Linked DNA regions of Homo sapiens. The protein of the gene in region 1 purifies or fractionates together with the protein of each later gene. This does not show direct contact. Each region holds a gene or a part of one and is shown on either strand. Other genes may lie near its edges.

Region 1 (3,910 bases):
TATATAGATGGTTCTGGCGACCAAGATTACAACAAAAGACAAACAACACAGAATTTTTAAAGAGCTGAATAGTCAGTCAAGGATGCATACTCTCAGTCTGGGCTAGCTCTTTTTTGGAAAGGTTGCCAAGAATGTCCTTATTCCCTCCAGAGTTATTTTTCACTCCACTACCTCTGACTAGGTGCATCGCCAGTGCAAGAAAATGCGAGAAGCCTCTGTTTCTGTTGCAAGCAACACCTGGACCTCCAAGGAAAATGAGCACTTTCTTGCTAGGAACAGTCTCAAACATTTTCAAGGGTGAGTCTCCCCTTCTCCAGGTTTAACCCTCTTCCTCCGTAGCTGGAGAGGCTCTCCTACTCGTGCCCGCCGCCTTCTTCCTCCCGGCGAGGATTCCAGGGCCACAACCAGGGCAGCTGCACGCCAGGCCGGCCTGGGTAGCCGGGATGACACCAGGGTTTGCCAACGCCAAACAGGGCGCAGACTCCCCGGCGCGCTCCGGACTCTCCACTCGCCTAAACCTGCTCTCAAGTGAAAAGGAGTGGGAGGAGGAGGATTGGGAGGGGGCGGGGGGCGGAGGGGATCTGTTAATTCGAGGTCCTGGGGGTGTGGGAGCGGGAGGCGGCTCCGCTGATCCCTCCTCCCTCCCCGAGTCCTGGGCTCCACCTCCTCCGCAGGCCCCCAGATATACACACACAGCCGCGGCTGGACATGCACACCCAGTGCCGGCTCCGGGCGCGCACACATGCAGGTAGCCACACTCACCTGAGCCGGTGCAGAGGGCGGCCTGGGCTGGGAAGGGGCCCCCTGCGCCGCGGGAGTGGGGAGAGCGGGAGGTGCCACAGCGCGGACCTGCGAACTGAGGTGATGGCCCGTTTTCCTTAACTCTCCTGCAGCACCTCCGCCCCTGCGCCGGCTCGGCTCTGGCCACAGCAGCGAGGACAGAGGGGCCCCGGGCGCGGCGGACTCGCGGGCGCACGCTCCCAGGAGCGCGCCGAGAGGGGCGCCGCGGCGCAGGAAACTTGGGCGAAGTTAGTTGCAAGTGCCAGGCGGCTGCCGAGAAGAGCGAGGCGGGGACGCGGCCGGTGCCAGGCCTGCGGCGCCGCGTGGAGGCTGCGCTGCCCTCCGCGGCCGGCGAGCTCCGGGAGCCCTAAGTCGGCAGGCGCGCCTGAAGGGGCTCGGAGCGAACAGAGCCGGCATGGCCCAGGGGACGGCCGGACGCGGCTCCTCGGCGAGCCGGGAGAACTTCCTCTGAGGCCGGGCGACCAACGCTTGCTCAAGCCTCATCCACCCTCCTTCCTCGCCCCACCCGTCAGTCCAGCAGCGGGAGAGGAAGACTCGAGAGGCAGGTGCTGCGGGGGACAGCTCCCCCCTCCAAAAAAAAAAAATCACCCAGCCGATTGGGGGTTTCCCATCGGCGCACCCTGCCCGGAGCCAAGAAGACAGGCTGGTGCTGCTGTATTTGTATTTATATCCATTGCTGCGCTCTGCGTTCTCGTGGCACGCCTGGACACTCCTCCGCCTCCCCCTCCTCTTCCTCCTCCAGGGCCACCTCCCCGCCTTCCCCACCCCCATCTGCTTCTGTCAAATGAGAAAGTCACCGAGGAGAACCCAAACACTCCAGCCGCTGAGAGCCCCCTTTGGCACTTGGCAGCACGCGGCGGCGGGCTCCTCGGCTCAACTTCGAGGAGTCTCCGCGACGCAACTTTTGGGGACGCTTTGCATTTAAGAGAGAACGACCGAGGAGGAGGAGCGCTCTGCCCGGCCGCCGCTACCTGCGGGGAGCTCACCAGCAAACGCCACTGCAGACGAAGGACCCAAAGAACGTAAAGGGCAAACTGCCGCCGCGGGGAGGGGGCACCGCCGAGAAGTTAGAGTGTCCCAGAGACAACCTGCTCGAGCGCTCGGCCGGAGACACTAAGGCGGCCCGGGGCGCGGCGTGGCCCTGGGCTGGTCCCCCAGCCCCCTCCTCCGGGGCGGGAGCGACGCCGGGGCGCGACGAGCCCCGGCCGGCCGAGCGGGTCTCCGCGGGCAGCCAACATTGATTTCCTCCGGGCCGAGGGCGAGGGCCCGGGAGGCGGCGGGCTGCAGCCGCGGCAGGGCGAGAGCATGTCCAAGCCGGTGGACCACGTCAAGCGGCCCATGAACGCCTTCATGGTGTGGTCGCGGGCTCAGCGGCGCAAGATGGCCCAGGAGAACCCCAAGATGCACAACTCGGAGATCAGCAAGCGCTTGGGCGCCGAGTGGAAACTGCTCACAGAGTCGGAGAAGCGGCCGTTCATCGACGAGGCCAAGCGTCTACGCGCCATGCACATGAAGGAGCACCCCGACTACAAGTACCGGCCGCGGCGCAAGCCCAAGACGCTGCTCAAGAAGGACAAGTTCGCCTTCCCGGTGCCCTACGGCCTGGGCGGCGTGGCGGACGCCGAGCACCCTGCGCTCAAGGCGGGCGCCGGGCTGCACGCGGGGGCGGGCGGCGGCCTGGTGCCTGAGTCGCTGCTCGCCAATCCCGAGAAGGCGGCCGCGGCCGCCGCCGCTGCCGCCGCACGCGTCTTCTTCCCGCAGTCGGCCGCTGCCGCCGCCGCTGCCGCCGCCGCCGCCGCCGCGGGCAGCCCCTACTCGCTGCTCGACCTGGGCTCCAAAATGGCAGAGATCTCGTCGTCCTCGTCCGGCCTCCCGTACGCGTCGTCGCTGGGCTACCCGACCGCGGGCGCGGGCGCCTTCCACGGCGCGGCGGCGGCGGCTGCAGCGGCGGCCGCCGCCGCCGGGGGGCACACGCACTCGCACCCCAGCCCGGGCAACCCGGGCTACATGATCCCGTGCAACTGCAGCGCGTGGCCCAGCCCCGGGCTGCAGCCGCCGCTCGCCTACATCCTGCTGCCGGGCATGGGCAAGCCCCAGCTGGACCCCTACCCCGCGGCCTACGCTGCCGCGCTATGACCCCGCGGGGCCGCCTCGCGAGGACCGGTGTGCACACGTGTACATATGTATAGGTACGAGCGCTGCGGCCTCCCCGTGCGCCCTCCCGCGACCGGGGGCCCGGTTTGTATGTACATAGAATGTATAGGTGCCAGGTAGAGGCAGAGAGGCCAGGCGGGGCAGGAGTGGCCAAGCGCGCAAGGGCGCGGGCGAGCAGGCCTGTGAATTCGCAGGATCATTTCAGACCCGCACTTCGGCAGCCAACTCGAAAGCAGGCGGTTGTGTGCGGCAGCAGTTGGCGTTTGCTTTGCACTTCGGAACCTGTTGCGTTTTGACCCACGGAGGTGGAGGAGTAACTTTTTGACATGTTGGCCTTTCCAGTTTTGTTGGAAGTTTCATGGTCGGTTTTGTTTTTGTTTCTCATTCTTCTTCCTCGCCCCTCAGCCCCCCAACCCCCAACCCCCTCCCGGTCCGTGTTGCATGCACGCTGTTCAAATGTGAGGTCTGAAATGGCTGGCACACGGGAAAAGCTGCTTGTGTCATTCGTTTCTGGGAGTGGGATGGCTCTGAGCAGCCTCGCCTCCCTGTTTGTACTATTTGAACTTTGCAGATCTCTGTTCTCTCAAGCAGAACTCCCAACCAGATCCATTCTTGACCAGTGACCGGCTCGAATCTGGCCTTTTGTGTGAGATGATCACGGTTTCTTTTGTTTATCACGCCATTTGCAAATCAGAGCAAGAGCTCTTTCTCAAGGGCAAGAAACGCAAACAAGAAATATTTGTGAGATGAAAGTTGTCAATTGGATTTTCTTCCTAAACAAACAACAACAACAAACTACTAGAAGTCTCCCTGAGTCCACTCGCTTGGATTTCTGACACAGTTTACAAAAAAGGAAAAAGGCACTGCTCCTATTTTCCCTTATGGCTGAGTTCACCTTAAGATTGTAAATGTGTATATGTCAGTGAAAACATTGAGGCTTGGAAAATGTGTTATT
Region 2 (3,810 bases), on another chromosome or scaffold:
GCGTGGAGGCCGAGGAAAGGATCGGCAGGCCGGTGCATGAGTTTATGCTGAAGGTATGTGATAACCGTTGTGGGCACCTCATTGTTAGAGCCATTGTGGTTTCCCCTATTGCTAAGACAAGTTCAGGCTCAAGGTTTAGAGTTCGTGTGATGGTCCCCGTGGGAATATATCCCTGGGTTTCAGGGCAGGGTGCTTCTCATTGCTGTCAGCCAGCACATGTAATTTCTGAAGGAGTCTTGGTGGTTTGCACTTGGAGAAGTGGGTTAAGGAAGTATTAAGTTCATTTCCCAAATAACCTGTTTTCATGTACAGTTCAAGTCCAACAGGAAGAAAGAGAATTCAGTGAACCACTGACTCCTCTAGAGGAAAAATGGAAGCTCTGGCCTTGGGCAGCTTCTCCACATCCAAGACGATGGTCAGCACAGGGCTGGAAGTTGCTTAGGCAGAACATAGCCAGGGATCCCTTAGTTTTTTTTGTTGTTGTTGCTAAAATTCCAGTGTGACTCATTTTCATCCTGGTTATATGTCAGGCTATCTCTGTGCCCCCTGCATAGTTACCAGAACAGTAGTAATCAGGAAAGTTCTTGAGGATTCCTTCTCTGGGGATTCAGGTGGCTTAATCATGTGCAGGTTCCTTGGCATCTTGCTGCTGAGAAAATCTGTCTTTGAGCAGTTAACATCGATGGGAACATAGCCAATCCCCAGCAGAAGAGGTTGTTGAGGAAAAGAACGTTACATGGATAGGAGTAGTTCCATAATTCAACTTTATACTCTTTCTTAAAACATGTAACTTAATTTCCTTTAGCAATAAAACAATAGTTATTTTAAACCATTCCAAAGATTCTACCAACCTGACACATTTGCATATACTTATTGTTTTTCTTGTGTCTCGAAGTTATAATTAGCCTGTTTCTTACTCAATGCCTTGTGTGTTTCTTGATTTCAAAATCCTTACCTACCTCCCAGTAACTAAGGGAAACAATCTTGCTGTTTAGGATGGGTGCCTATATTACAGGAGACTTAAATCAATAAACAACAGTAAAGGTAACCTTACTGGTTTTTTTTATGCTTTTAGTCAGTGGTCATCAAACTGTGGCCCATGGACCAGAAAATCTGGCCTGCTGCCTGTTTTTGTAAGTAGTTTATTGGAACACAGCCACACCCATTCCTTAATGTCCTGTGTTCATACTACACCAGCAGAGCGGACTAGTTGCCACAGAGATCACATGGCCCGCAAACCAAAAATACGTACTGTCTTTCCATTTGGCTCTTCACAGAGGTTGCCAGCTTTGTTGCATCATGTTTACATAGATTCACGGTTGGTTATCTTTAAAGACTAAGCCATCTGTACTCTCGGAAGTCAGGGCTGAGTTACTCAGGCCGGTGACCTGGCTACTTGCTCTGCCCGAGAAGGTCAGGCTTCATAGTGGCCTTTAAGTGTAAAGGGTGTGGATTCTTTGTATTGTTGCCATGCCCATGCCCATTAAACAGTCAACACAGAGTCCATTAGGAGATGCACTGAGTCTCCTGGACAGAGAAAGACCATGTTGTACAGTATTGTTCAAGTGTGTATGTGTATGTGCATGTCATTTTTTTTTTTTTTTTTTTAAGACAGAGTCTCACCCTGTCACCCAGGCTGGAGTGCAATGGCGTGATTTCAGCTAGCTGAAACCTCCGCCTCCCGGGTTCAAGCAATTCTCCTGCCTCAGCCTCCCGAGTAGCTGGGATTACAGCTGCCTACCACCATGCCCGGCTAATTTTTTGTATCTTTAGTAGAGACGGTTTCACCATGTTGGCCAGGCTGGTCTCAAACTCCTGACCTCGTGATCCACCTGCCTCGGCCTCCCAAAGTGCTGGGATTACAGGCGTGAGCCACTGCGCCTGGCCCACATTTGAGCTTTTAACCAGTGGGCCTCTTCAGGCGAAACCTTGTGTCAATGCCCAATGATGAAATAGAAAGGCTTAGTGGCTGTGGTTGAGGGATGGGCATGGGAGGGTGACAGTGGGGGTCTTGGAGCCCTTATCCGCTTCTTTCCCCTATGCTAGTGGCAGCCCGTGCAGTTCATCTGCAGACCCAGACTCCCAGGATGAGATCACGCCTGTGATGGAAACACCACTCTGTGGCTCAGGGATCTGACAGATCTGAGTTTGAATTCAGCTGCTGTCACTTATTAGCTGTATGTCCTTGGTCAAGTTATTAATCCAAGTCTCAGTTTCCTCTTTATTAAAACAGAGATCATGATATTTACCTTGCAGGCTATGAGGATTGAAAAATATTATTTTGCTGCCTCCTTTACAATAAATCTTTAGGCGGGGTGCGGTGGCTCACGCCTGTAATCCCAGCACTTTGGGAGGCCGAGGCAGGTGGATCACCTGAGGTCAGGAGTTCGAGACCAGCCTGACCAACATGTAGAAACCCCATCTCTACTGAAAATACAAAATTAGCTGGGCGTGGTGGCTCATGCCTGTAATCCCAGCTACTCAGGAGGCTGAGGCAGGAGAATCACTTGAACCCAGGAGATGGAGGTTGCAGTGACCGAGATCACGCCATTGCATTCCAGCCTGGGCAACAAGAACGAAACTCCGTCTCAAAAAAAAAAAAAAATCTTTAGAGGCAATATCTGTATGTCTGTCTGAGTTTTTCTGTTGCTTCTTGTCAAATTACCACAAACTCAATGGTTTAAAACAACATAAATTCATTATTTTATGCTTCTGAAGGTCAGGAGACTAAAAGGGATCTCTCTAGGGTTGCTGTACTGCATTCCTTCAGGAGGCTGTAGGGGAGAATGTTTACTTACGTTTTCCAGCCAGGAGGGTGGGGCAAATGTGTATGAAATGAATGAAATATAGTCATGTGCCAGTTGACATTTTAGTCAACAACAGACTGTATATGTGACAGTTGTCCCATAAGGTTATAATGAAGCTGAAAAATTCCTATCACCTAGTGTTATTGTAGCCATTGTAAAATGTTGTAGTGCTACGCATTACTCACGTGTTTGTGGTGATGCTGGTCTAAACAACCCTACTTCTTTGCTAGTCATATAAAAGTGTACAGTAGGGCCCTAGGCTCTCCCATTCACTTACCATCACTGACGGGCTCACCCAGAGTAACTTCCAGTCCTATGTAGATGTACCATTTATTATTGTTTATACTGTGTTTTTTCTTGTCCACGTTTAGATATATTTAAGTACACAAACACCATTGTGTTACAGTTTTCTACAGTATTCAGTACAGTCACATGCTGTATAGGTTTGGAGCCTAGGAGCAGTAGGCTGTACCATGTAATGTAGGTAGTACACTATACTACCTAGATTTGTAAGTACACTGATGTTTGCGCAGTGACATACCACTTTTCTCAGAACATAACCCCATTGTTAAGTGGCATGTGACTGTATACCTGAGAGTCTCACTCAGGCTGGCACAGAGACACTCAGTAAATGATAGTTATAATTATCAGTAAAGCATTTACTTGAAGTACTGTCAGTTTGTTGTCATTCAGGGAAAATTTGCAACTAAGATAGCTCTTATGAATATATATCATGATATATTCCTCTTGCTTTGAGGAGAATCTTAATTTTTTTTTTTAAGCTGGCATTTCTTGAGCTCTTTCTCCAGGGCTCATGGTCTTAACCATTGCACTAGACTACCTCTTGTAGTTGCAGAGAGAAGATGAGCTGCCCTCAAGATTCCCTCTTTTCTCCATAGGTAGCTGCTACATGGAATATTTTGGCCTGAGTGGGATTGGGAAGGAGGCAGCTCAGGGCAGGAGTAATTTGGGGAGAATGTTTTGGTCCACCCACTTGGAATAG

What was found.
Region 2: the proteins of SOX21 (region 1) and RIOX2 purify together in Homo sapiens (affinity purification with mass spectrometry; one large-scale study listed by BioGRID and IntAct). This does not show direct contact.

The regions. Positions count from the first base shown.
Region 1 is NC_000013.11:94,710,246-94,714,155, reverse strand, and holds the start of SOX21 (transcription factor SOX-21), read left to right. Parts: upstream 1-1,610; 5' UTR 1,611-2,106; coding exon 2,107-2,937; 3' UTR 2,938-3,910. UniProt on the Homo sapiens protein: May play a role as an activator of transcription of OPRM1. Overexpression of SOX21 can up-regulate the OPRM1 distal promoter activity in mor-expressing neuronal cells. May play a role in ameloblast differentiation.
Region 2 is NC_000003.12:97,955,294-97,959,103, reverse strand, and holds part of RIOX2 (ribosomal oxygenase 2), read left to right. Parts: coding exon 1-53; intron 54-3,810. UniProt on the Homo sapiens protein: Oxygenase that can act as both a histone lysine demethylase and a ribosomal histidine hydroxylase. Is involved in the demethylation of trimethylated 'Lys-9' on histone H3 (H3K9me3), leading to an increase in ribosomal RNA expression.